2 separate regions of the Homo sapiens genome follow, and region 2 is linked to region 1. The links come from fine-mapping of genetic effects on gene expression. Tissue or cell type: whole blood. Region 1 holds a variant in brackets; the other region holds the start of a gene. All regions are shown on one strand. Distances are between the middles of the regions.

What was found. PIP is the estimated chance that this variant, and not a neighbour inherited with it, causes the effect.
Region 2: it holds the start of GRAP2, and the variant in region 1 is fine-mapped to the expression of GRAP2 in whole blood (TOPMed, PIP above 0.99).

What each region holds. Positions count from the first base shown.
Region 1 is chr22:39,944,072-39,957,381 of GRCh38, reverse strand. It overlaps GRAP2 (GRB2 related adaptor protein 2), which reads right to left. Exons shown (of 8, transcript NM_004810.4): 2 at 10,198-10,289; 3 at 1,472-1,563. The coding sequence starts at 10,275. Among named protein-coding and RNA genes, the nearest start is that of TMA7B, 9.7 kb to the left of the region's middle. RefSeq lists enhancers at 132-191, 5,562-5,731, 6,496-6,735 and a silencer at 5,402-5,461. The variant T/A (reference allele first, on the strand shown) is at 5,570.
Region 2 is chr22:39,893,207-39,909,683 of GRCh38, reverse strand. GRAP2 (GRB2 related adaptor protein 2) reads right to left here and starts at 8,600. Exons shown (of 8, transcript NM_004810.4): 1 at 8,354-8,600. It overlaps ENTHD1 (ENTH domain containing 1), which reads left to right and starts at 15,924. Exons shown (of 7, transcript NM_152512.4): 1 at 15,924-15,989.

The DNA of each region.
Region 1 (13,310 bases):
AGAGAACCTGGAATCAAGGTCACGGGCTAAGAGTGATGCACGGAGGGGCTGAAGGTTTGAGGAGCACGTGGGGTATGCAGAGGTCACCTAGCAGATTCCTGGGCAGCATCAAGGGTTCCGTCAAGGTCAGTGGTCATTCTCTTGGTTTGGTGGTCAGTTCAGGTTTACCAAGACTGGTGCTCTTGCACCTTGCTGGAGTCACCAATACTACTGTGGTTTTCTAACAAGCTTTTGCTCTTTGAGCTAGACCCTGGTTCTGAGGCAAGATTAGATTTCTATCTAACCCTTGTGGTCAATTCTTGAGACAAACGAAGCCCAATCTCAATTTTTCATTTCCTCTTTAGGAAGAGAATTTCCCCTTCCCCCCGCTGACTTCTCTCATTGGGGTGAGCATGCTTTACTGAAGGCAGGGAGTGTCTGTCCACCCACTGAGTGAAGGGTGAGAGCCTGGTGAGGATGGTTAGGATTAGGAGGTCACAGAGAAGCGCTTAGGAGAGCAGCTCCCGAAGTGGGGTGGCCAATAGCGTCCCCTTTGGAATTCTGGGGAACGCCGTGATTGAAATCACTATAGATAATTTGAGTTTACAAACTCATTTTATAAAAACTTAAAATAGGCCGGGTGCAGTGGCTCACACCTGTAATCCCAGCACTTTGGGAGGCCGAGGCGGGTGGATCACCTGAGGTCAAGAGTTTGAGACCAGCCTGTCCATCATGGTGAAACCCCATCTCTACTAAAAATACAAAAGTTAGCTGGGTGTGGTGGCATGCACCTGTAATCCCAGCTACTAGGGAGGCTGAGGCAGGAGAATTGCAATGAGCCGAGATCATGCCACTGCACTCCAGCCTGGGCAACAGAGCAAGGTTCTGTCTCAAAACAAATAAACACATGAATAAAAAAACCCAAAAAAACCCAAAACTTAAAATAGGCCAGGCATGGTGGTTCACGCCTGTAATCCCAGCACTTTGGGAGGCTGAGGCGGCAGATCACTTGAGGTCAGGAGTTTGGGACCAGCCTGGCCAACATGGTAAAACCCTGTCTCTACTAAAAATACAAAAACTAGCCTGGCGTGGTGGCATGTGCCTGTAATCCCAGCTACTTGGGAGGCTGAGGTGAGAGGATGGCTTGAGCCCAGGAGTTTTAGGCTGCAGTGAGTGGTGATGGAGTCACCGCACTCCAGCCTGGGTGACAGAGGGAGACCCCAACTCCCAAAAAAAAAAAAAAAAAGTTAAGAACAACTTAAAATAGCAATACATGCACATGGTGTAAACATCAAAAGGGAATGAAATGAAATGCAAAGTCTCCCTCCTGCCCTGGCCTTCAGCTGCATGCTCTGGAGGCTCTCCGGAGAGAGCTCCAGAGGCAGCCATTTTTGACAATGTCTTGGGTTCCCATGGATAACTGTAGTGACTGCTGGAAATGTAAGAGGAGTGTGTGTGGCTAGGCCCATCTCAGCAGGCTGCAGATACTTACTTGGGAAACTGGATGTCTATGAAATTCTTGGGCACATATCCTTCCTGGCTCCCAAGCTCCGCCTTAAACCACTCCTCTTGGTTACTTAAAATCTACATGGAAGAAAAGGAAAGACAAAGACATTGGAGGGAGGACACCAAAAAAACAAGAGAAAGGGGCTGCCAGGCAAAGAAGGCCCTTTTGGACTTAGAGGAAAATATGTTAATAAGTTGAAAGAACTCAACAGCTGTTCTAGGATTTACCCCAGGCCTGTGGAGGAGCCGTGGGTTTACCTTTGGAGTCAGCTTCTCCTGACCCCAGGTTATTTCTGTCCACTTGTGCCGTCCACTCATGTCACCCCACTGTGGCTTGGCCTCCCAAATTCAGCACTCAAGGACTTCCCTGAATCCCTTTTTCTATTTTGGAAATTCATTTGTCCCAGTTAGCACCTTAAGTTCCTCATCTCAGCAGATGGTGAGAAGGAAGAATGGTTACTCCACGGTGTATTTTTTTTTTTCTCTTCCAGGTAACCAGGAAACTTTTCTCTTTTTTTTGTTGTTGTTTTTCGTTTTTTTGAGACAGAGTCTTGCTCTGTCGCCAGGCTGGAGTGCAGTGGCGGGATCTCAGCTCACTGCAACCTCCACCTCCTGGGTTCAAGCGATCCCCCTGCCTCAGCCTCCTGAGTAGCTGGGATTACAGGCATGCGCCACTACACCTGGCTAATTTTTCATATTTTTAGGAGAGACGGGGTTTTACCATATTGGCCGGGACTGTCTTGATCCTTTGACCTAGTGATCCACCTGCCTTGGCCTCCCAAAGTGCTGGGATTACAGGCGTGAGCCACCAGGCCCAGGAAACTTTTCAAAAATTCAATTTGTTATTGTTTTTTAAACAGGCAGATTAAAACTTAAACATCCCAGTGGGGCCAGCTTTGGAAACAGTAACTCTTTGTGTTCACATGCTGTGTATTTCACAGATATTTGGCTGGAACCCAAGATACTTGGGATGCCTTTTCTAAACTTGCTTTTAAAGCCAGATCCCAAACAAAACCAAAAGTTCTGTCTTGTTACTCTGTGGCCTGACTTTGACTGTGACCCCAAATGTTATTGTCTACCTCAGTTACTCATATTACTCACCAGACTTGACTGTATGTGGCTTCTGGTTTCTCAAAAAATGAGATTCACCATTAAAAGACAAAATATTTGACACCGCCACTGAGAATGTTTTGAAAGTCTGAGGCCAGGTGTGGTGGCTCGCGCCTGTAATCCCAGCACTTTGAGAGGCCAAGGCACATAGATCACTTGAGGCCAGGAGTTCGAGACCAGCCTGTCCATCATGGTGAAATGCCATCTCTACTAAAAATACAAAAAGGAGCCGGGCCTGGTGGCACATGCCTGTAATCCCAGCTACTCGGGAGGCTGAGGCAGGAGAATTGCTTGAACCCAGGAGGCAAGGTTGCAGTGAACCGTGATCTTGCCACTGGACTCCAGCCTGGGCAACAGAGCAAGCCTCTCTCAAAAAAAAAATTTTTTTTAAGTCTTTGATATAGACTAGAACAATAATTCTAAATAAGGATAGCAGAGCAAAAGATGGAAAGAACTCTGATAATGTCACTGAACCGCTGAATTAGATGATACCCAGGAGCCTTCCTACTTCTGGACTTTGAGAAATTACAAGTCTTTGTTATTGTTTAAGCCATTTTTAGTTTATGTTTCTTGCTCCTGAAAATATCTTAACTGATAGAAGTGTGATGATAAAGAAGAAAGCAGAAATAGATAGAAAAGGCATCCATATGTAGAGGAGAGACCACTTGCCTTGGCAACGAAAGGAGTTACTGAGGCCAAGTCAGATGGCAATGGACTTCCTCCTTCAGCTCTGAGGAGGTGTGGTGTGTTCTGGGAATGAAATGCCTCCAGGTGGCTGGAATGTAGACTGTGAATATCTTGAAATGTAGGGGGAGCCCTTAAAGGATTTTGAGCAGGGAAGTAACAGTAAGAATTAGAGTTCAGAAAGAGCTCTGGCTGGGTGCGATGGCTCATGCCTGTAATCCCAGCACTTTGGGAGGCCCAAGTGGACGATCGCTTGAGCCCAGGAGTTTGAGACCAGCCTGGGCAACAAAGCGAGACCTTGTCTCTATGAAAATAAAAATAAAACTTAGCAAGGCGTGGTGGAAGCGCACCTGTAGTCCCAGCTACTCAGGAGGCTGAAGCGGGAGGAGGGTGTGAGCCCAGGAGTTAAAGGCTGTAGTGAGCTCTGATTGTACCACTGTACTACAGCCTGGACAACAGAGAGAGACTCTGTCTCTAATTAAGAGAGAGCGAGAGAGCGACAGAGCTCTGTATCAGAGATCAGAATGTGAAGATAGATTGCAAGGCTAAAGTCGGCAGAAAAACTGCAGGAAGATGAGCGCAGGCCTCCAGTCAAGAGATGATAGGGCCTAGGCTAAGAGGAGGTGAGGATATATTTTAGAGAAATTCAGGAAGCAAACAGGCAGGATTTCTTGACCAATCTTGGAAGCTAAGGGAGAGGAGGACTCTGGGATGCCACTGGATTTCTGGCTTGGGAGACTGAGTAGGTGGTGACGGCTTTACAGAAATAGAAGATACATGAGAGGAGGCAGGGCTGAGAAAGGGCTCATGGGCTTCAGATTGCATGCGGGTGACTGTGAGTTGAATTCTTCAACTAAGAAGAAAAGCTCAGGGAGCAGCTGGATATGTCAGTCTGGACCCAGGAGAGAGGCTAAGGTTGGGGCTTGGGGTTTCAGAGTCATCAGAAAGTGGGTGGAGTTGAAGTCACAGGGCCCTTGGGCTTCTTTCTCCCAGAAAAGAAGATGGGAAGATAATGGAAAGAACTAAGTGCTTGAGTGGAGATGATGACCTATTTCTAACATCACTCCAAGGTGGAAGGAAGGGGACAGTGTTGTGAGTTGGGAACGAGAAGACCTGGTTTCTAGCTTGGCTCCATCACTAGATATGTGATCTTGGCCAAGTCAATCAGCCATTTGAAAAATGGAGATAATAATAGCCACCTAGCACCTCACAGAGCTGATGTGAGGATCAAATGAGCCCTGGTACCTGAAAGTCCTTCAGAAAGTGTAGACTCTTTTCAAAAAATACAATTCCATCAAATGTGGTATTCTTATGAGGGAGGCCTCCAGCTCTGAATAGGACATGGAAGGGTTTATACGTTCTTTAAAGCATTATGTGTGTATGTTTTGAATTTAGTCATTTATTCTGAAGGAATAAAAGTGTGTCCCATATTTGAGTTTGAGATTGCTGAGAACAGAAAACTTTATAGTTTCTAACATCAAATGTGACTGCTGGTGTCACTAAGGACATGTGGGTATGTGTGTGCTGAGGGGGCAAGGGAGGAAGCAGAAAATCTAGGTCAAAAGAACTAGGAAACCCAGCAGCAGCGCCTCGTAGCCACGTAAAAACACAAGAGCACACTGCACTCCATCCATCGCTTCTGAATTCATGGCATTGGAATTCCTTTCTCCCGTCACATGGGAATGTGGTGTTTGGCCAGGGTAGCAAATGTCACACAGAAAGGGGTAAAAGAGGCCATTTGGAAACTACCTTGTCACCGTAAGAACCACACGTTGAGGCCGGGTGCCATGGCTCACGCTTATAATCCCAGCACTTTGGGAGGCTGAGGCGGGTGGATCACCTAAGGTCAGGAGTTTGAGACCAGCCTGGCCAACATGGCAAAACCTGATCTCTACCATAAAGACAAAAATTAGCCAGGCATGGTGGTGCATGCCTGTAATCTCAGCTACTTGGGAGGCTGAGCCACGAGAATTGCTTGAACCCAGGAGGCGGAGGTTGCAGTGAGCCGAGATTGCGCCATTGCACTCCAGCCTGGGCAACAGAGCAAGACTCTGTCTCAAAAAGAAAAAAAAAAAAAAAAAAACCACACACTTTGTACTTCATTTTCTGACCTGAAAGCAGCTCTGTAATTTTAGTTATCATGCCTCAGACCTCCTCTAGAAACTGAAAGATTATCCCACAATGCCAGCCATTTCTCTCCGCCACCTGGTGCTTGGTCTGCCTAACACTGTGTTTCTAGAGAGGTGAATTTGCAGGCTCTTTACCATGTATAGAAGGTGAGGTTTTTTTT[T/A]AAAAAAAATTCTCATTTTCTGCAAAGAAAAGTATTTGAGGGGAGGGGAGATGGTTTCCTCCTGCCGTTGTGGGCCCAGGGCCCCACACTTCCTGTTCTTCTCATCTCTCCATCTGTTCGGTTCCCCCTATCTCGTGTACCCATCGTGTAAACCTGAGCAAGGCGTTCAGCCTGAACACTTGAAGTTTTACTCTTGACTGTTTCTTAATTCTTATAATGTTCCCTAAGAGATGATTTTTTGGGTTACATGGCCTGTGAATAAGTTAGACGTGGGAAGAGAAGGGCCAAATTACGGCTGGAAGAATTTTTAAATTGGATGAAATTGTAGCTTTTAGAAACATAGCAAAAATCTGAAGTATTGAAGAAATGAATTATGTGGAATTAACTCTTAGTGCTTTTAGGTTGCTATTTTAGCAGGAAGAAATGAGGTCGCATTAGCTGCATTACAGAAGGAGACAGAAATGGACTGGGTCAAGAGATATTTTTCAAAGCTACTGGCAAATTTAATGGCAAATTCAAATGTGAGGCTGGTGCTGTGTGTAGCTGCAGGTATGGTGGTTTGTGGCATGAATAGGAAAAAAATCTGATTCCTGAGTTTCCAAATGTTTCCGTCATAGGAGAAGCAGGATCAAGTCATTTGGCAGCGTTTTCCTGTCCACCATCTTGATCTACATGCCGTGTAGATCACCATCTAGTGAGCACCTGCTGATTGCACTTAGGTGCATGAAATATGGAGATAAATAAGCTGGGGCCTCTGCCCCAGGAAACTGATGGTCTGTTGAGGGTGGGTGGCTGCTCAGACTTTTTTGTACCTTTCTAATGAAAACCTCTGTTTAGTCTTTAGCACAAAAGGCCAAACAAGTCAGAGAATCCCAGAAGCGAATTGCTGGGGTAGTCAGGAGCTGGCTTTGAAAGTATTTGTGAGGATCCTGGGTGTGTTACCCATTGAGGAAGGTGGGGGGCAGACATTGCAATCACATGTGGGGAGTCCCAGCCATGGGAACCAATCACCATCCTGTAGACATTCTGTGGGGCTCAGTCAACAAGCCCTCCCCATTTTGCTCTTTACCTGCAATGGACAGAATTTGAAAAGAGGGAGGGGGTTGGCTTTCCAATGGAATTCTAAATGAACAGGAAGAAATGCAATTTAGCAATTCAAGAAATATGTACTGGGCATCTATTTTGGGCCATGACTTGTGTTAGATGCTGTGAAGACACAAAGACGAACCTGGCATTGTGTGCACACGTGCATGACATTGCTCTCAGGGAATGGAGAGGAATTGAAAGTTCATTCATTCGTCAAGTGTCAGGGAGTTCTAGGCACAGCTCTTCTAGACATTGAGGCAGAAACAGCCCCTGCCCTTGCACAGCTTTTGCTAGTGGAGTAGACAACACATAAACGAGCAATTAGGATCCCACGGGGCAAAGGCAGCAATGAGAGGTAGAAATAGAGGGTGCATGAGACCACAGGGTCATGGCCTGCCTATAAATAGCTGCCATGTGAGGCAAAGTCATAAGTGCCTGGAAATGAGTGAAGTTTATGTGAAATGTTGGGGAGGAGCTGAAGAGGGAGTGATTTGTTTCCCTGGGATGGTAGGGAGTGGAGAGGACCAGCGAGGTTTCCATGGTAGAGGAGGTCAAGTATGTGTGTGTAGGAGAGGGGCAATCAGAGTATATAGGGGAGAGGCTGAGAAAGGGCGGTGTATACATTGCAGTGCAACCTGGGGGCGTTACATCTACAAAGATGTCTCTGTGTGGGTGTGTGCACACATGTGTACATGTGCATAATGACACTGGACAGTGGTTTGGGGCCAGATGTTTTCAGTCTCAATCAATTGGTAATTGGAAACCCCTGAATGCTTTTGAGCAAGGAAATGATATGATCTGATTTGTCTGGAAAGATCCCTCTGGGACTAGTAAGAAGAATGAGTGAAGGAGGAAAAAGACAAGAGGTAATGAGGTCAGTCAAGGAGCTGTGGCAATGATCTGAGCAGTCAGAAGCAGCGGGGATGGATGATCCCGATAATGCGGGCCACCATTTATTGGGCGTCTACGTTGGGACAGGGTCATCACCTCGAATCCTCTCCACAACCCGGCAAGATGGATACTACCTCCACTTGCTGAGGAAGACACTAAAGCTCAAAGGGGGCAGATGACTGGGCCCCAGTCTCCATGGTTAGTAAGCTGGGATTCAAACTCAGATCCATCTGACTCAAAGTCTATGCTCCTTTTTACTGCCTCACACTCCTTTCTGGTGAAGAAGAGACTTGCTTGAGAGATATGAGGAAAAAAATACATTCAGAGCAGAGTTTAGTGCTTAGGAGTCAGACAGAGTTCTGTCCAGGTCCTGGATTGGTCACATGCTAGCTGTGTGACTGTGGACATGTGATTTAATCCCTAGCCTCAGTTTCTCATCTATGAAATGGAGGGGAAATGAATGCCTACCTCACAGGTTTGCTGAGATGATGAAATCATGCCTGCAAACCACTTAGCTAGATCCTGGCCCTGAACAGGAGCTCAGGAGACGTTGGTTACTGGTCACCAGGATTTGGTAAAGGAGGCATTGATGATAATTGGGGCTTCTAGCTTGTGACTGACCTAGGATAATAATTAGAACATGGAAAGAAGAGTGGCTTGGGTGGAAATGGGGGTGAGATGGGCATGGGGGTTTGAGTGATTCTCGGCATCCTGAGTTAGGGGCTGGAGTTCATGTGGGGACATCCAGCAGACAATTGGAAGTCTGGGTCTGGAGTTCAAGAGCAAGGCCAGAGCTAGAACACGAGCCACAGACTTGAGGGTCTTTGGCACAGAGGTGATAGTTGCAGCTGAAGAAGTGGATGAGGTGGCTCAGAGTGAGAAGAAAAATCAGAAAGCCAAAGGCAGCACCTTCAGGGAAGTGTATATTTCAGGATCAAGAGAGGAAAAAGAATGCTTGGAAATGAGACCTGTAGGAGTGGTCAGGAAGGGAGGAGAAGAACCCGGAGAGGGTGGTGCTGCCAAAGCCAGGGAGAAAGGGGCTTCCAGGAGAGGGCCAGTTAGCAGTGTCAATCCCACAGACATTTCCATAGGGTCATTATACTACACATTAAGGAGATCACTGGTGAACTTCAAGAGAATGTTGCAGGGAGGGTAAAAGGCAGATTCCAGAGAGTTGTGGAATGAGTGGGAAGTGAGGAAGTGAAGCACGCCCAGTGTAGAGAATTCTTCCCAGTATTAGCAACAAAGGGGAGGAAAGAAATCAGGAGCTGGATTGGGAAGCAGAGTTGAGCAAAGTTTTTTTTTTTTTTCTTTCCTTTTTCCTTTTCTGAGGAATAGAGAAAACTTAAGATACCAGGTTCTCTTTGTAATGGAAGACGAGGGTGGAAGTTGGTACAAGGATGGTCTCCAGTGGATGACAGTCACATGATCACAGTGCCCCACAGAGAAGGCAGGAACTTCTCGCTGCTTGGCAAGTCCCTCCAGGAGCTTCGTAAGACCCCAAAGCAGTGACAGACAGGTTTTCCTGGGTCAGGAGGCCCAACTCATATTTTAAGTTTGTGAAGGCCTATGCTTTGCCACTATGTTACTAGATCTTGAAAGTTGAGAGCAGTTAGAAGGCTACCTAATGGGCATGTTCATATTCCAAAAGAAGCCATTCTGTGGTGTTTTGTGCTCCTCAGACACTTTCAATGTCACCCTCTCACATGCTGACAAGGTTCTTTGTATAACAAACCTAATTCTCGGTGGTGAGACACTAATGGCCTCAGTGTTGCTGGGCGTCCGAGAAGGCTCATTGGGACTGCTGAGGACCAGGGATCAGGCTATCTGAGGACCAGGGATCAGGCTATCTGAGGACCAGGGATCAGGCTATCTGAGGGTGCTCTGAGGTCAGGCAGAGGGGGTCTGGCTCCACACACTCCCAAATGCCCTTTTGAAGGGCTTATGCTCTTTTGCAAACAAACAAAACAAAACAAAAACCCAAGGGCTAAGATGCAGAGTCTGAAAGTATGGTGCATGAATGTGGGAGAAGTCCAAGGCCACTTCAGCTCAGCAAGTGGCCACTACAACTCAAGTGCAGGATGAGGACAAGCTTTAAAAAGCCCCTGAGTGGCCAGGTGTGCATGGCCTTTGTTGAGCCATGTCCTCTGTGGCTGCCTTTCCCAAGCTGTCTCCACCCACAACCTCTCCTCCTGAGTTCCAGCTCTGCTGAGCCTGGCGCTGCTCCCTGCATTCAGCATGGGCTTGCACATCTCTGAGCTTTAGCTAAAAGCCCAAGTCACCTTCAGTGCATTCCTGACGTTCACATTGCACACACTCCTACAACCCCCATCTTTCAAGATGGAATCACTTGTTCCCTCACCTGTGCTCCCTGAGAACTTAGCCAAGAACATCTGTAACAGCCCTTTGGGTGGATGTGTTCCCCTCTCCAGACTACGAACCTCCCAGGACAAGGATGGTGGCTTATGCCGACTGTATTTCCATCACCCGGCCTGGTTGGTGTCTGGTATAAGGGTGCACAAAGGGAATCAAGGTGAACTTCTCTTTTTAAAAGGAACCACATGCAGTTCTTAAGAGACAAAGGCAGGGACTGTCAGATTACTGAGTAACTGAAACTCCCTACTGCTCCCCTGGGGCCCCAGGTCACCTACCTTCAAAACATCTCCAGTGTGAAAGCTCAGTTCATCCTCACCTGAAGCAGTGAAATCAAACTTGGCAACAGCTTCCATGCTGTAACGTGAAGCTGGAAGAGAAATAATGTGGTCATTGTGCCTCTCTGCCAGGGGGAGGGCAGCAGAGCCGATGGTGCTTCCTGGTAATCAGCAGTTCCTAGGAGAGTGGGCAGATGGATGTCTCCAGGCCGGAGAGCAAGGCTCAGGCACACAACAAGGGCTTGTGTTTGCAGGAAGAGCTGCCGGAATCTATAGGATCTAGGTCCTGGGATCATTCTCGGAATCCCCAGATGCCAGGAGCAGGAAATGAAGGCCATCCGCAGCCTTTCCCTTCTCCTTTCATCATCCTGGCCTGACACCACTTTTGGGGGCATCTCTGTTTGCAGCTGATAAGGAGGGAAGGCTTGCTATCATCTGTAACTTGAGGCCTGAGGGGCTGGAAAGACTATTCTGTAAACACTGTCCCAAGGCTGTCCCTTGGCAGCTATATTTAACCAGGCAGTGTTAATTAGACGGATGCCATTTCCTCTTTTACATCTGAATCATTTAAGAGAATTAGACAGCATTGGCCAGTGGGGAACTCAGCTTCCTTCTGCATGGTTTGGGAGTAGAAAGAAGTTCTTGGTCTTCGAGTTGGGAGGCTCAATTGGTCAGATTACTTATTTTATGATATATTATAAACCAAGTACATTTTGGGAATTTTGATTTTAACATTTTTGAATTGAGTTAAAATAGTGGCCCCCTTCTTGTAATGCATGAGACCCATGTAAAGATAAATGAGTCGGCCTATGTAATACATTTAGTATGAACTAGAGCTGTGCTTTAGGAGGCAGCGGGGATGTAATGGTAAGACAGCTGGCTCCAATCCCAGTTTTGTTGGTAGATAGCTGTAGACTCTTGGGCAAGTAATTAAACCCTTGGAGTCTCCATTTCCTCATCTATAAAATGGTGATCATAATATTCAATTAATAAAGTTGCAAGGTTAAATCAAATTATAGATGCAGGCCGGGCGCTGTGGCTCATGCCTGTAATCCCAGCACTTTGGGAGGTCGAGGCGGGCAGATCACCTGAGGTCAGGAGTTCAAGACCATCCTGGCCAACATGGCAAAACCCTGTCTCTACTAAAAATACAAAAATTAGCTGGGTGCCGTGGCACGTGCCTGTAATCCCAGCTACTTGGGAGGCTGAGGCAGGATAATCGCTTGAACCTGGGAGGCAGAGGTTGCAGTGAGCCAAGATCATGCCACTGTACTCCAGCCTGGGTGACAGAGCAAGACTCTGTCTCAAAAACAAAACAAAACAAAAAAATTATAGATGCAAAGTATTACACCAGATAAAGCTAAATAGTATTTACGTTTTAAAATAATTTTATGGAATGAATTTTTCCCCAGCAAAGGTAGCCTGACCAAAATCAGCACAAGTTTTCTTTCCTCACTCCATCTCCTATGAACTTTTCTCATTGAAATTTGAGAACTAATCTCCATGACTATCAAATCCTGTGATTCTCTGCTAAGACAGCTTAACTGTCAGGACAATCTTGAAAGCTGTTATTTTCTTGTTGATCAAAATTTCCCTAAGTTTCAAACCCTTTAGGGTAGAAAATAAATACTCTCCAACCTAATAGACTTTCAGCGACCAGTCAACTGGGACCACATTTGTCCTCTCAGTGGGAATTCCTACCCAAGTTAACAAGATTTGGGTAAATAAGGAAGGTGGCTGCCAGTGAGAGGGTGAAACGCCAGGAGATCAGAGGATTAAAGCCGACTGCAACAGGGTGATAGCAAGGGGCTCATTTCTCTGATTCTCCACAATTGTTCAATCTTTCGAAGGTAATTTATAGAGATGACTATTACCCATTCAAAGGTAGATGTTAAGCAAAAAATAGACCAGGAGCCAAAGTAAAATGTCACAGTTAACTCTTTGAGTCAAAACGTACTCCCAAACAACACCATCACAAATATACTTTTTGTACACTTTCTTCAAGATCCATCTATCGAAGGCAAATTAAAATTGTTGTGACCTAGGACGACCCACTCAACAGGAAGGAGTATTCTGCCCTCCTAAGTTAATGCTAAATGCCTTTGCTGATTTGATTCACCCCATCATTTTAACACACAAGGCTTCTTCTAATTAAGGCCTTGCCTCTAGTTTGCAGAGAGACATGACTTCTGTGGGTCATCCTCATGGTATCAACAGTAGACAGTGGTCGCCTCGTGGGATCAAGTGTCAGGTGAATGGTCCTGAAGACCAAGGTCCCATTTGTATGCAAATTCACCTTAATAAGCAGGATGGAGACAAGGGAAGGGCAAATGCTAAACATATTAGAAAGTTACATAAATTAGAAATGAAAAAATATCCCAGGCAAGCTCTAGATAAGACCTTGATTTGGGGAAGATCTTTCCAACATGACATGTAACTCAGCTCAGGCTTGGGCACTGGGTCCAGGCTGGCTGTAAATCACTTCAGTGAGAAGTGAGAAGGCCGAGGCAGAAGTAAAATTGCTTCTGAATAGCAGCACTTTCCTCTGCCTTCCCCCAGGAGGTAGGCGGTATGGCAAAGCCAACGACACAGCCATGTCACAGAGCTCCCCAGCTTGTAATATTAATCCTGGCTCAAAAAACCCAACTAAACAGGCCCACTCTTTATAAAATCGCTTTGAAAAAATTTGTTTGCTCCCATTTCCATTTGTGAGATGAAATCTGCCCAGCTGCTGTTTGTTCAGGGTGGGGTGGGGTATGTTCTCTTTTTGTTTAAACCACAGGGCTTCAAAAACTCTTCCCTTGAAGCACCCCTAGTAGTAGAGAATAGTAAATATGTCACCCTCAGGGGTCGGTTTTCTGTTTGGTCATAAAAATGCATGGAAATGTATATCCCATTCCTCTATATCCATTAGCATTAATTTTGAAAAGTTTAAAAATTACCACCAGGGAAAAAGGAATCTGATTATCCATTTGTTTTATGATCTGTACCTGCCACCACTACATACTGCATTGGAGAAACAACAACAAAAAATATGATGCAGATATAAACTGGGTAGCAACAATTTAGACAGAGTTGTGGGGGGCGGAGTGCAACAGCCTGAATTCAAGAAT
Region 2 (16,477 bases), 49 kb after region 1:
GTTTCCCAAATACACTGTTCATTCCTTAGGGGAAAGGACCCAATGTTTTTTTTGCTTTTATTTCCCAAAGTGTTCTCAGTACGTCTGCATACCTGTGAGCTAGGGACTGAGTGAATTTCTGCAGACAGTAGCCAAAAGATGAATTAAAGTAATCAGACAGGTAATTTTTACAGCATCTACAAGACGAAGCATTACAGCATGCTTTCTTGATAATAATAACACCTAATTGACCCTTCACTTTATGAAATAATATGATCTGACAAAGTAGGCTGTATCATAAATCTCCCTTACGTCTTACATTTAAAAATGGAAGTTGTGGATCTTTGCTGGAGAAAAAGTCTGCTCTCTAAAAGCTCCATCTTTTTTGTTCCAGGTATTGGGAATTTCTTTTCAGCTAGGGGATTCCTTGACTTCACACTTTCTCCTTCTTTGATTATTTGGATACTTACAGGGTACCAAGTGTCAACTCATAAAATCTTATAGTACCCGGTTTATAAAATGAATTAGTAGTCTATTTAAAAATATTGATCTAGAAAATAAAAATTCCACAAAATGAGTTTGTTTACACAAGAAAGCACCATGTTCTGCATTGTACAAATGAGATATTGTTGGGGGTAGCCACACATGAATCTTCAAAAGTCTCTTGTATAGTGGGTTAAAGAATGGCATAATTTCACTCGAGGACAGAGGAGTCGATGAGGCACAGTGAGTCATCTGTGAGGCTGAGCACAGAACACAGGATACGGGAGCCAAGCTCATGCTCTGTCACTCTCATCACTGGTCAGTATAACCTCCCACAGTCCAGTGACCTGACACGGTACCGAGCAGATGATACTGTCTGCAACAAGTTGATCTAACTCCACTTGCCAGCCTGAAGTTCACTTAGAAAATTTGAAGCACAAAAAGACTGAGACACAGGGGCCCAATTTCCTATCAACACCTGTTAATCACAAATATTAGCACTTAGCTTGGATGACTCCAAAGGCCAAGGGAGAGTGGTGATGTCCTCCCCTAGTCTCAGGACTTCTGCATTCACAGCTGCAGGCCCTCTTGTGAGTCTCCAACTTCCAAGAACAATTCTGGGACATTAAAGGATATAACTGTTCGTAATAAAAAATCAAGGAGAAGGTTTTGTACCCTTTGAAAGGCATAACCTCTTTAGAAGGATAAGGATCTATCAGCCCAAAATAAGCCCATCAGCATTATTTACTTCCATATGACTCCCTGAACTACCCAAGAGGGGTAATAAAATCTCATGGGATGTCTGCCCATTGCAGAGCACAGGGTTGGAGTATAATTGATGTGGACAGTCAGCCCTGCAGCAAGTGAGGCAGCCAGCGGCATGACACCCAAGCAGCCCACAAAGGCACTATTGAGATGTTTGTAGTTTCTAATGGGATTTGGACATTGCAAGGGAATCCGTTAAGAATTGGATGCCAGCTCTTATGCCCTACAGGGAAGGGTGAAGGGTCTTGCCATCTATGGCAGAAAAGGTCATTTCCCTCTGTTCCCAGACCCAGTGGGATTAGGTGGTTTTCTGCAGAAAATCAAAGGGCTTCAGAGAACACACAGTCTAACCTCTCACTTGACTAAGGAAGAAACTGAAGCTCAGGGAAGTTAGGTGACTTGTTTAAGATCACGTGGGTAGCTCTGGTAGAGCCAGAATTCAGCTTTCCAGAAGCCCATCGAGGGCTCCTGCATCTCCAGAATCCTGTGTTTGGACCAGTGTTGTGGAAGGGGCCCAGCCTACAGCGTGACAGGCTTGGTGCTACGTCCCGGCAGACATTAGCAAATTACCTTGAGCAAGTCCCGGAAACTCTCCAAGCCTTGCTTTTCCCACTCTGCAGAATGAGAGGTAAAATCTGTGGTCTGTCTACCTCAAAGATCATAGCCAGATCAAACAAGATAATGGCAACTCTTTTTATTTACTTATTTATTTTTTGAGACAGGATCTCACTCTGTTGCCCAGGCTGGAGTGTAGCGGTGTGAACACGGCTTACTGCAGCCTTGATCTCTTGGGCTCAAGGGATCCTCCTGCCTCAGCCTCTGGAGTAACTTGGACTACAGGTGCGGGCCACTGGGCCTGGCTAATTTTTTAAAAGAATATCTTGTAGAGATGGGGCCTCACCATGTTGCCCAGGCTGGTCTCAATCTCCTGCGCTCAAGCAATCCTCCCACCTTGTCCTCCCAAAGTCAATGAGCCTGTACGACAACTCTTTTTAAAGCTCCATCAGGATCAGTGTACAATAACTCTAGAGAAAGACAATTTTTCCTATTCAGGATATATGGGTGGACACCAGGTGATTTATGATGGATGGACACCAGAATTTCCCACGGAAATTCTGTACAAAGTTGCGTAGGATAAGTGCTAGGCATCGTTGGTTTTTTTTCCCCATTGGGGAGAGTTTTCATAGTTTTCGTTGACATCTTGAATGTGTCTGTGACACTCCCCTTCCCCCACCCACCCCACCACTGCCAGTAAGAACCTATGTGCTATGGATATCAGCGTATTTATGGTCAACTTAAAGTACTGATATAAGGTATTAGATTTAGACAATTTTCTTAGTTGTCTCAATGTTTGGTTGAGATTCTCCTGTTATTCTTACCGATTTAATGATCTATATTTTCAAACAAATCTATTTAGCGGAGGAGAGCCTTTTCAGCTATCAGACTTTACATTTTGTTTTATAAAGGGTTAAACTGTGTGACCTATAAAATGATGAAGAGAAATTTCAAATTACAAGTCAGCCAGGCTTTCCACCCCACTTTGTACTTCCCTTGTAATATTTCCTAGTTATTTAGAAAGAGTTTCTTTAAAATCATATTTAACAAGAGAACTATCTACTTATTATTTACTGAGTTCCTACTGAGTTCTCAGCAGTTTGTTTCTAATATTTTCCCATAAAGCACTAGACAAAAAACACAAATCATGAACCATTTGTAGGCCGACACATTAAGCCCGTGGTTCTAGAAGGCTGGGGGGTGTGGAGAAAAACAAACGAAGAAGTATTATTCATGACCAATTGATCAATTAGGCTGCTTTTCATTAAAAAACATAAAAAGGCAGAACCAATTTGGCAATGACTGTGTTGGAAATGCAAAAAGAACCATTATTAATGCTGGATTTTTTTTTTCTTATTTATTTTTAGTTCTCTTTAGAAAATTACACTTGAGAGCTTTCTGTAATGGCCACTGAAGGAGTGGATAAGATTCAACTCAGCAGTCGAACCCTTTTGTAATGCTAATGAAGGAGCATGGACCAACACCTAGTTTATACAGCTTTTTCTCAATACAGTTTCAGAAGCCACAGGCTGACTTATGGAATATCTGAGTGTATGAGATAACCAACCAGGGAATTTACCTACTAACAACAGTCATCCATCGTCTCTTAAGGAAATCCACCATGGCCTTTTATAAATCTGACAATGGCTTATACTCTTGCGTTTTATGGTAAAATCTTATATAGTACAGAAATGTGAAAAATGAGAGGAAATTTCTCCCTCCTGATTATATCAAAATATCATCTTCCACCCCGAGGCTCTGAGGTCCCAGGTCTCATAACTCCCCGCTTGTATTGTTCCTTTCAGGGATTTTTTCCCCCCATTACTTCATAGTTCTCCTACTCTTTTCTGTTCCAAGTATTTTATGTTCAAGGTTTCTTGTACAGAGCCTTAAGCTATGTAAATGTAATAAGAGTACTTATCTGGGCTTAGTGGAATGCTGTTCTTATTCAGATGAATTAAACCTTAAATGTGTTTGGGTGGCAACCTCCCGGATTTTCAATAACTTCAAGTCTGAGTGTGTGTGAGGGCTACTTCCACTCAGCTCCACTTGTATCACTCCTCACTGCATGTGCCCATCATCAGAGAGAGTGCTCAGGAACCAGACAGCCTGGGTTCAAATCCTGGCTCCACCAGGTACTAGTTAAGTGACCTTGTGCAACGTACTAGACCTCTCCGTACCTCAGTTTCCTCATTGTGAAAAAAGGGTATTATTAGCACTTTCTTCATTGCACCATTAGAAGAAGTAGACGAGTTAGTACCTACAAAGTATTAGAACAATGCTTGGCAAATAACAATAATAACAGGCACTGTTTTAGGAACCTTAAATGTATAAATCGTTTACTCTTCAGAACAATCCCACGAGATAGGCACCATTAGTAATCCCATTTTATAGCTTAAGAAACTGAAGCACAAAAAGAATAACTCGTCCCAGTTCATTCGCTTAGTAAGTGAAAGACTGGGCTCACACCGAGGCTGTCTTGGCTCCACAGCAAGCACTCAATAAACATTACCTACTATTATTATTATTACCTGAACTTATGCACTCAATAAATATTTCCAGCCACTATTGCTGCTGATAATGATGAATTTGCATGTCGAGTCCATCTTCAAAGCGTATTAAAAATATATATGAACTCCAATGAAATAATCAATTTAGGCAAAGATTATTACCTAAAGTCACCGGGTGAGAGTTTGTTGGGAAATAGGATATTGCCACCATGCCAAAGTGTTTATGAGATACACTTTGAGATACCCCCTGAGAGTACTCGCTAATTGCAAAGGGTGAAAAAGTGCCTGTACAACAAGAGATCCTCTGAGCAAGATCACTACCTCAAGCCCTGATCAAACTTGGCATCATGCACAGTGGAACAACCTGGCATTCTGTACCTCCTGATAAGATGCAATATGGAGCACCCAGTGGCACCTTGCAAAAAACGTTCAATCAAAATCAAATCATGCTTTTAGTCCTAACTTGGAGCTTATGAGAAATAAAGTGGGTAGAGGAACAAATTAACCATGAGGCAACAACGAATTCAGAAAGTGGGACCTGGTACAAGAGAACTGGCGTAATCTTTAAAAACATCCAATGTTGAAGAAAGAAGCATGAGACCCAACTGCAAAATATGTTCTTATTTTTAAAAATTAGATTCTTTTTTTAAAAAATGGTATAGAAGACATTTGGGGGACAAATGGGGAAGGTTAAATCTGCACTAGCTATCAGATGATATTAAGGACTTACTGTTTATCCTCTTAGGCCTAATGATGGAATTGTGGTTAGATAGAGGAATGCCTTTATTCTTAGATGAGTACTGAATTATTTAGGAGTGAAGTATTATTTTATCTGCAACTTACAAGTAATTCAGAAAGAAATAGGTATAGATGGAGCAAATACGGCAAAGAGTTAGCAATTGTTGAACCTAGGTAGTGAGTACTAATATTTCAACTTTTCTTTATGTTTTATGTTCAGTTATTTTCTCACTATCTTTTCTTTTCTTTTCTTTTTTCCTCTTTTTGAGACAGGATCTTGCTCTGTCGACCAGGCTGGAGTGCAGTGGCACGATCTCAGCTCGCTGAAACATCTGCCTCCCGGGTTCAAGCAATTCTCGTGCCTCAGTCTCCCAAGTAGCTGGGATTACAGGCGCCTGCCATCATGCCCGGCTAATTTTTGTATTTTGGTAGAGACAGGGTTTCAACATGTTGGCCAGGCTTGTCTCCAACTCCTGACCTCAGATGATCTGCCTGCTTTGGCCGCCCAAGTGCTGGGATTACAGGTGTGAGCCACTGTGCCCGGCTGTTCTTCACTATCTCCTTAAGGTATGTCTTAACATTTTCTTTGGAGAGTATATAAGACTTTTATCATCATGCACTTCGTGATAGTTTCTTTTAATTCTCTAAAATTTTTGTTTATAAATACATATTTAAAAAGAAAACAATCTTTAAAAATTATTTACTGAATTCCTACTGACTCAAGTTTATTGAAACTTAATGTTAACACTGTTGAAGAGGACTTGGTGCCTAGTGCCAGGCCTGGCATATAGTAATTGATCGATAAATGTTTGTAAAATGCTTATTTGTTAAACAGGACCATGCTTTCTTAAGAATTTTTAAGAGAAAAGAAAGGGCAGGCCAGGTGTAGTGGTTCACACCTGTAATCCCAACACTTTGGGAGGCTGAGGCAGGCGAATCGCTTGAGTTCAGGAGTTCAAGACCAGCCTGGGAAACATGGCAAAACCCTGTCTCTACTAAAAATACAATATTAGCCAGGTGTGGTGGTGTGTACCTGTAGTCTCAGCTACTTGAGAGGCTGAGGTGGGAGGATCACTAAACCCAGGGTAGTTGAGGCTGCAGTGAGCTGTGATTGTGCCACTGTACTCCAGCCTGAGTGACAGAGTGAGACCCTGTCTCAAAAAAAAAAAAAAAAAAAAGACTCATGAGGCTGTGTTATTATCATTATTATTATTTATTTTTGGAGATCTGCCCACCTCGGCCTCCCAAAGTGCTAGGATTATAAGCATGAGCCACCGCGCCCAGCCAAGGCTGTGCTATTTCTTTACAGACCAAGGTATGCTGGGCAAATACCTCAAATGGACAAAATGGGGACCTAGCGACCCTATTGTTTGATTCAAACAACTTATAAAGATTCTTTAACAAGTTTTGAGTTTGTTTGATAGGGGCACAAAAATGAATCATCTGCCCCCAGGATTATCCAGCAGCAACTGTTACTTATTTAAGAAATCGTGATGGAATCACACTTACTGACACATTTTCGAACAATTGCAGACTTTTCTTGACCCAGGAAAAAAGGGCAAGTTCTACTCAAGCTTAGGCATGAACCCTGTCAGTCATCAACACCAGTGGGTGTTATTATCTGGGAATCAATAAATATGTTGGAACTAGGATCATTTTCAGCTCTTCTAGGAAGCAATAGTTCTAAAAGAGATGGCTTCAGGAAATAAGTGAGAGACATTTTGTATAAGAAGTGGGAAGAAAATGATCAAGAGTCAAAGAAACAACTAATCATGATATCGCCTTGCATTTTTATAGAGCCTTTTTCCTAAGGCACTTCATATCTATGTTAACTCATTTATTCTTACAACATCCCTACGAGGTAGACAGAACAATTGAAAGGGATTTTCACCAGGGCCTAAGATGTGGGAGATATTCAAAAGGATATTGTATTAGCAACAGAGATATTTCTTCATATTGAATAGATTGATCATCTCCTTCTCCTCTGCTTCAGTAAAGTCATTTTTAAAAAGATAAAATCTATTACAATTTGGGGAGAATAAGATTTCAGTTTACCACATGGGAGACACTCCAAGTTCAATCTAAAAAAGCAGTTTTATTCAATAATATAGGGCCACCTCTCTTTTACAAAAAAACAAAAAAGGGTATGAGTCAGATTTTTTTCGTATTTGAAAATTAAATATACTTAGGTGGTCCTCTATTTACACAGTGTTCCTTATTTAATAGCAGATGGTTTTGTAAAGAGAATCACTATAAAATTATTCTATAAAGTTTTACATAAAATACTGGATTGTTAAAGGAGAGTAACTTCTGCTAAATACTCTTTCCGAAACCAAAAATAAGAAACAAAAAGGAGCCACTAAAGAACTAAACCGTTTATGACAAACATTGCTGCATAGAACAAAAGATTCTGCGACCTGAAGTTTCCCATCCTCAGATAACATAACGAGAACACACGAAATTTTTCCCATTGGATGTTTAGATCTAAAACACTTCCCACTCCTAGTTTATCTAGGGATGTGTATGTTCAATAGTGTGCAAATTATGCTGCATACACTTTATTAAGAAGGCCTAATTCCAGGTAGATAAATACGGTAAATTTTTTTTGACAGTATACCTGTCAGGGCAATACAGTACATTTTAAATTAGTGAAACCTTTGGTTGGTATGTTCAATCCTCACGTTCAGGAAGAGTTGGGACAAAGAACACAAAGCAGCTATCTTCAGACTGGACGCCTAAACCAGAGACAGTCATAGGGATGGAGCCTAACGGCTAGTACGAAGAGAGACAATACCCTTCCAAAATACACTTCAACATAAAGTTTTCTTTTCGTAAAGGAATGAAAACTGGTGTCCTTTGTACAGGTAACAAAAATGCGAACAGAACTAGAAATTCAAGCAAAGAGAGAAATCCTGACCTCAGAGTGCTAGTGTTCATTCATCACTGCTCAGCCCTCTACCACCCCCTCCAATCCCTTCCAATTTGGATTAAATTCTGACCATGGTGAAGTGGAATTTTACCTCCATGATCCCAAGGTCGAAAATCTTTCCCTGAGATGCTTCTGAAGCCAGTTTGTGGAGATTTTTGTGTTATGGACTGGGTAAGGAACAAGTGTTCTCCCAGTTCATTTGATAGAAGTCAAATCCCATCACCACAAACATTGTCACAGCAAAAGGTTTAGAGACCTTAGCTGATGGGACTTAAAAGCAATATTTAGAGAACTAGTGAGATTCATTTTAATTAACTCATACAGAACATTCTGCAAATTATAAAACTGTTCAAAGTTTCTAGAGTATATGTACAGATGTTGTATAATGACATACCTTTTGGAAGAGAAGGGGTTGAGTTTATGTCTTGGCTTTGACACCGAGTTATTAGAATCCTTTCTGGCAAGAAGGGAGACAAATTCAAGCATCAGAGTTACTGCATTTCAGAGTATGGATCCACTTTGTGCTGTCTTCCATGTACCACTCTGAAAGAGGGTGCAAGTTTACAGATCCATTAACTGTGCCTCCTCCTCCCCACCTCTTACTCCCTCCTCCAAACTAACCCTAGTCAGCCCTGCAGTCTGTAGGCAAACCACACAGGAACTAGCACATATGGGGCTTCGGAGAGTTGGGCGTGAGCCTTAGATTATGTGGTTTTGTTTTCTTGCTGCCAGAGTTGAACTAAAATGCAGGAGGTTCACTGAAACACTTTTGCTTCTTTATGCTTGGTTTCAGTTTTAACAATATCCCCCCTGAACACTTGTGTTCACATAAGAAAATTTATAGTTCTTGATATGGTCCATCAGCAAGCTGATCTTAAGGAAAACTCTTATTCTCTTAGTATAATCATGCATCCAGAGGAACATTAGGGCTTCTTGGGGGAACTTATTTAAGAGCACCCTCGATCACTCACAATGTTAAAATCCCAGGAAAGATGCTTTGTTCATACACTCAGCCTCTAATATTACTCTTGACAAAAAAAGAAGAAACATTCTGAGCTGGGATGCATTCTCACCCCAGGTTTGCCACAGTCCAGCATGAGGTGGAACCAGTTCCTTCAATTTCTGGGACTTCAATTTCTGTTGAGTCTTAGACTGAAGGCTTTCTGGGATTTAAGACTTTCCATTGACCTTGAGTTTTGTTACCTTCAACTTCCTTAGTTCTTACCTTTAAATGTACCACTCACCCTTCCCCCTATATCAACTGCAACTTGTGAAGGCCTCTTCCTTTCTCTTTGCTCTTGCTAGAAAATGGATTGCCAACGTTGCATCTTTTACAGAAAATTAGAGACATTGCTACTTGCTAAGTGGCACCATTCAGAGTTTGGGGACTGGATCCAAGATGAGGAGGGAAATGTTGGCTCACTGGGATGTTCCTAGCATTAATCCCTGGAATACCAAGAGGAGAGTGTCAAGGAGAGATTCAATTTGGGGTTCTAAAATTTAAACTTTTTCTGCAATGTGAAACGGCATCCTTTTCCATCTCTTTGCTTCTTTATATCTAAACCTTGCTTAAAATTTACTTTCTTAAAACCTTTTCCTTGGTTATAATTGCCCAACATTTTTATTGAAATAGAAAAGAAGAATCAGCAAAGTGTCAAGGTGACAGAAAATGCTCAGTAAATATTTGTCGAATGAGTTAAAGGAAGTAATTTTCTATCCATAACTCCTTTTTTTTTTTGAGACGGAGTTTCACTCTTCTTGCCCAGGCTGGAGTGCAATGGCATGATCTTGGCTCACTGCAACCTCCGTCTCCCGAGTACAAGTGATTCTCTTGCTTCAGCCTCCCAAGTAGCTGGGATTACAGGTACCTGCCACCATGCCTGGCTAATTTTTTTTGTATTTTTAGTAGAGATGGGGTTTCACCATGTCGGCCAGGCTGGTCTTGAACTCCTGAACTCAGATGATCCGCCCGCCTCAACCTCCCAAAGTGCTGGGATTACAGGCATGAGCCACCGCACCCGGCCCTGTAGCTCCTTAATAACAGGCTTTCTTTTTATTAATGCAACTTTGTCAAATTTTCTTAAATCCTGGTTATATCTGAAAAGGATCTCTGCTATTTCCACATTATAAAGATAAAATTTAAAAATAACAACATCTTGCTACTTTAAAAATAATAACGTCTCAACCTTGACCTCAGAATTATTCAGCCTTCTAAGGACCTTCTTGGATCATTACACTGAACAGCTCTATTGCCAAGTTTTTAAATGCTGAAATCCTCTGGCTACAGTCCTTATTCTTTGATAGCTCCCAAGTCGATGGTTTTGAAATGGTTAAAGGAGTCCCTAAAATTCTATGGTTGGGGAGTGGGAGCGAAGGGAAAATGTTGAATGGTGTTACATGGAAAGTATCATGGTGTTTTCAGCTTGTACCCTAATGAGGAAGCTAATTTTGCACCAGGCACTACTCCCCAGGGAGCAGAATATAATCCTTCCCCTTACAAGCATGGGACAGATTGCAGAACAGAAAAATCTCAAAGGCAAGTTATTTTGGTAGTAAGTACTGATTGACAGACATGTTATGTAGAGCATAGTGGGAGGGAAGCAAGGCCACTTGAGTGGTTTATTTCATAACAGCTCTGTAACTGAACGAGTGCAAAGGCAGATCCTAAGAATAAAGACCCTAATGTGAGAATGCCAGCATTTCAGTACTCACTATCATGAGATACTCAGAAAAATAGCAGCAAGATGAGGAGGATACAGTAACATGTGAAATATGGACTTAGCCACAGTGGAGAAGTTTCTTTTTTAAACCATACTTTGTTTAAAATTTTTTTAATCAATTCCTTTTGAGGGGTCATTTGTTTATATCTGAACTTCTGTTTTGTTTTGTTTTTTGTTTTATTTTGTTTTTTGGAGACTGAGTCTCGCTCGGTTGCCCAGGCTAGAGTACAGTGACGCAATCTTGGCTCACTGCAACCTCCACCTCCTAAGTTCAAATGATTCTCCTGCCTCAGCCTCCCGAGTAGCTGGGATTGCAGGCACCTGCCACCACACCCAGCTAATTTGTATATTTTTAGGACAGCTGAGGTTTCGCCATGTTGGTCAGGCTGGTCTCGAACTCCTGACCTCAGGTGATCTGCCCACCTTGGCCCCCCAAAGTGCTGGGATTACAGGCATGAGCCACTGCGCCTGGCCAATATCTGAACTTCTTGCCATAATTATGCTCAATTTAACTTTATGGTAAAATATGTACTTCTTATTTAATAGTGTGCATTCAGACATTCTCGTTTCATTTATTCAATAAATAAAGTTTGAACACCTACTCTGTGTTAGTCCTGTTCTAGGTGCTGGAAAACTATCAGTGAACAAAACATAATCTCTGCCCTCCTGGATCTTACATTCTGGTAAAGGGAGAAACAGAAGGTACATCAGATGGTCCTACTGTTAGGGAGAAAAATAAAATGATGCAAGAGCCACAGGGAGTGTGGCTGAGATGGGGGTTGCGATTTTACGTTGGGAAATCAAAGGACATTTGAGCAAAGTCTAGAACAAAGTGAAGAAGCCAGTACTTCCTGGATGGACATCTGGGGAAATAGCTTTTGCAGGTATAGGGACTAGCAAGTGCAAAGACTTCAGGTGGAGACATGTTTAACACTGTGAGTGAGGTGGAGAGGAGTTGGGATGGAGATCAGAGAGAGAGCAGAACATGTAGGGCCTTGTTGCCATGGCGAGGCCTTTGGATTTTACTCTGAGTGAGATGGAAGCCAATGGAAGATTTTGAACTGGGGAGTAGTATGATCTGACTTGGGTTTTAAGTTTTAAAAGGGTAGCTCTGGCTGTTGTGCTGAAATTAGATAGCAAGGGAGCAAGAACAGAAGAAGAGAGACCAGTTAGGAGCCTACTGTTGGCCAGGCATGGTTGGCTCATGCCTGTAATCCCAGCACTTTGGGAGACTGAGGCGGATGGATCACCTGAGGTCGGGAGTTTGAGACCATCCTGATCAACATGGAGAAACCCAATTTCTACTAAAAATACAAAATTAGCCAGGCATGGTGGCGCATGCCTGTAATCCCAGCTACTAGGGAGGCTGAGGCAGAAGAATCGCTTGAACCCGGGAGGCGGAGGTTGCAGTGAGCCGAGATTGCGCCATTGCACTCCAGCCTGGGCAATAAGAGCAAAACTCCATCTCAAAAAAAAAAAAAAAAAAAAAGAGGCTACTTTCATAGTCCAGACCAGAGATGGTTGTGGCTTAAAACAGGATGATGTGAGTGGTGGGAAGTGGTTGGATTTTGAATATACAGGGTGATCATAAAGTCTAGAAACATAGATAATGTTATTGTATCTTGTATTAGAATGTAGCATCAATAAATCATTTATTATCTAGACTGGGTAGCCACCTTGTATTTCAAAGGTAAGCTCATGGATATCATGAGAGCTATAAGAGACAAACACAGGAGTTAAGGTGACTCCCAGGTTCATGGCCTGAGAACCTAGAAGCAAGGATGTGTCATTTACTGAGACAGGAGAGACCGTGGGAGAGAAGGTTTGGAAGGCAAGACCAGGAGTAGAGGTCAAGGTAGTTAGATACACGAGTTTGGAGGTCAGGAGAAGCTGAAGAGAAAACCTTGAGAGTTGTCAGAATCGAAGAGTATTTACCGCTTTGCAAGTGGATAACACTACCTGTGGAGTGAATATAGATAGAGAAGACAAGAGGTTAGAGAATGGGCTCCTTCAAAGTTGAGAGGTCATAGAATTGAGAACGGATGAGTCAAGGAGATGAGAAGGAGAAATGGTGTCCGGGAAGTCAGGTGAAGCAAACTGTGTTCACTTTTATAGAACCTCAAGTTCAAAAAATTAAAGGAGAAAACCAACCAAGCTACCATAGAGCAATATTTGTATTTAGTGGATGTTACGGTATTGCAACTAAATTGTGCCCCCAAATGGAGGAAAGCAGATAAGAAGGACCCCTTACATATTGTCACTTGAACAGGGTTAATTCCACTAAGCTGGTAACACTTGACACTTTTGCCAAGCCTAACCAACTCCCTCACTGTTTATTGGGACTTCAGTCTTTAATCTTACCCTGTCTCCTACTTCCCATCTGCCTCCTCAATCACCTTCTATATGCTGACTACTCTGAAGTCTATGAACCTAGCCCCAAACCCTCTTCTTTCAGTTATCTCTATTCAACTGTCCCCTGAACATCTCCCACCTGTTGCTCAGATTCAAAATGTCCGAAGCAGAATTCCCCAGCTTTCCTGCCAAACTGACCCCTCGGATCATGTTCATCTTGGTGAACAGCAACAGTCATTTACTTGGTCACCCCAAAAAGAAACTTAGTCCCTGTAGACTCCTCCTTCTCTCTCATTGCCACATATATTCAGAGCCCGATCCCATAACTGCTACACTTTAACATTACATGTAAAAGTATATGTGTGAGGAGAGTGAACAGAGTGGAGATTCACACTATGCCCATGACCTCTGCCTTAGTTATGGCCTTCATCACTTATTGCCTGAACTATCAGAACATTCTGTTCTTCTTCCAGTTCCTCTGCTTCCAATCTACTCTTTGAGCACACACAGAGATTTTAAAAGGAGAAAATGAATGAATTTAAAAATAAAAAATTGGAATCTCTGACCTTCTCCAAACATAACAAGTCCACTTGTGACTGAGTTGCTGATAGAGCTTAAAATCAAGGACCAAAGATTGGTCCTTGGAGTAGGGGAAAGAGCTAGACACAGGAGATTTGGGTTCAAGTTTCAGGTAAACTGCTTCCTAGTTAAATATCTCTGGGCAATTACTGTAATCTATTTGTTTCTCCAAACTCAGTTTAAGCTCACCTCCTCCAGGAAGCCTTCCCTGACTATGCAAATATAGACAAGTCCCCCTTTCACTCCCGTAACATTGTTTGCCTTTATTATAGCAACTACTTACAATTGCTGATTTATTCCTGTTTCCTCTATTAGAGTATTAAACTACAACTTCCTTCTAGTCTCATAGCTCAGCATAGTGCTTGGCAAATAGCAGGTGCTCAATAATGTAGAATGTATGCATATTCCACAAACTCAGCTTTCTCACCTGTACAATGGGATAATAACGCCTACTTCTCAGCATTCCTTTGAGATTTACATAAGCTATACATATAAAAAAACTTCATAAACTATACCTCAATGTATAAAATACTTGTAGTTTGTCCCCCACTATTTTATAAAGTCAAAATACCTCAACATAGCATTCAAGGCCCTGAACAATGTTTTCCAGGTCACCTTTTCGATTTCCCTCTGGCTCCCACCCCATTACTCTATATTATAGCCAGTCAAATAATATTCCAAACTCACCAACTTCTTTCATACCTCCTATCATTTTATATTGGATTCACCTATCTACATGTCAGTATCAATAATGTGGGCTATTATTATTATAATTATGACTGAAGTAGTAGGAGATAGAAACAAATGTTGCTTTTGTCTACTAAGTGTTTTGTTATCCTCTGTCTTTTCCCCTCATCCTAGTCAATATTCCATTAAAACACAGGTTCGATTACATTTTTCAATGCCTACTGGATAAAATCACCTTGTAGTATGGATAAGGTTCTTCATGATCCAACTTCCCTCTGTTATTTAACCTTCCTCTGCTGCTCCACTAATAGCCTTTGTGACAGTTGTAGTAACTACAGTACATGTAGTTTTTCCAAGATAATAGGCTGGCTCAGCTTTCATGCCTTTACACATGATGTGTCCTTTGCCTCTTACGTCCTCCTCTACTTTGTCTATCCAGTGAACTCCCTGTCATCCTTTAAGATTCAATTCAGATGTAAACTCTTCTGTGAAACCTGCCCTTAAATACTCAGTGGCAGAATTAGATGATCTCTTCTCTCTTACTATGCCATACATATCTTGTTACAATCTTCTCTGACGGTGCCTGTCACCTCCACTAGCCTGTAAACGTATCCAGCAGAGGGCTGCTTTTTATCTCCGAGTCCTTACTGTCTGGCACAAAGTGGGTGCTCACGGAAAATCAGTTGAATACATCAACAATTACCCGTCAGTGGCACCTGAAGCCATCAGTCACTGGAGCTACCCCATCATTGTCCATCACACACACTGCTCTTCATAGACTACTATTACATTCTCAGTCCTTTGAGGTGGCAATCACGTGCTGGTGGTATTTCTAGTCAGTTGAAATGACAGTAGTAACACACTTTTAAAAATGTATTCATGTGCCATGCTGGTGCGCTGCACCCACTAACTCGTCATCTAGCATTAGGTATATCTCCCAATGCTATCCCTCCCCCCTCCCCCCACCCCACAACAGTCCCCAGAGTGTGATGTTCCCCTTCCTGTGTCCATGTGTTCTCATTGTTCAATTCCCACCTATGAGTGAGAATATGCGGTGTTTGGTTTTTTGTTCTTGCGATAGTTTACTGAGAATGATGATTTCCAATTTCATCCATGTCCTTAAAACTTAAATAATAATAAATAAAAAAAAAGAGATATTATGCTAGAAGTCTGAGTATTTTACTGATTTTCCATTTTAAGAATAAATTATCATGGCAAATTTTAAGTTACATACATTATTTTATTGTCTACTTTTTAAAAACATTATCAGCTTACCTTGGCATTTTTTTTCTTTTTTTAATGTCCGTTTTTACGTTGTGAACATTTAGTAAATTAATTTATACTCATTTTTATTTAATTAAGAAAGCAGCTAAGAATAAATGCTAGTGTCTGATTAAACTATTTCCCAGATCTCAAAAAAAAAAAAAAATTTATTCTTTGAAAGGAGGATTAGGGCAGTGTCACAGCCCGGCAGCCTGTGAAACGAAGACACTTACCTTCATTCCCCTTGGTACCCTCCAGCTCAGGTATCTGCAACCATCTTGCTTGACGCCCTGACAGGAACTGCACCAGGCCAGAAAGTGAGGAAGCGGAAGTGGGGACCGGCCTGGGCCCTTGAGCCTGGCTGGAGTAGGTGGAATATCCTGGGGAGAGGAAGTTTGGTCGTTGGGCAGCGGCCGACTTTCCTCTCAGGTAACAGCCTCTGCTTGGGAGTGGTGGTGGGGCTCAAGGCGGGTCTGGAAACATCGGTTGCCTTCCCTCCTCCCGTTTCTTGCCGGCACCGTCGGAGTCCAGGTGGGGGCGGGAGGGCGGCGAGGCCATTACCATCCGCAGGAGGTGAAATCCCTGTGGCGTGACGTGACGCCATCACGTCCCTCTCTCCTTCTAGAGGCTTTCCTGAGGTCCAGCCTTCCCCTCCACTGCCGGTTCTCCTAGGGTAATTGCTGGTCTGATTCTCTGTGTGGCCGAACGCCCAGCACCTGGCTCATCTGGTACACAGTCGTCATCTGAAGTGGGGGTTGTATGAATGAAGACGAGGATGCCGAGGAAAGGCCCTGCCCACAGAAAGTTGATTCTTGCTCAGCCTCCACCCGCCATTTTCAAAATTCTTTCCAAAGCATCTCGTTTCTTCCTCCCCCACGGCCCTGTCTGGCGATTATTCTTTGTGTTGCGGATGAGGG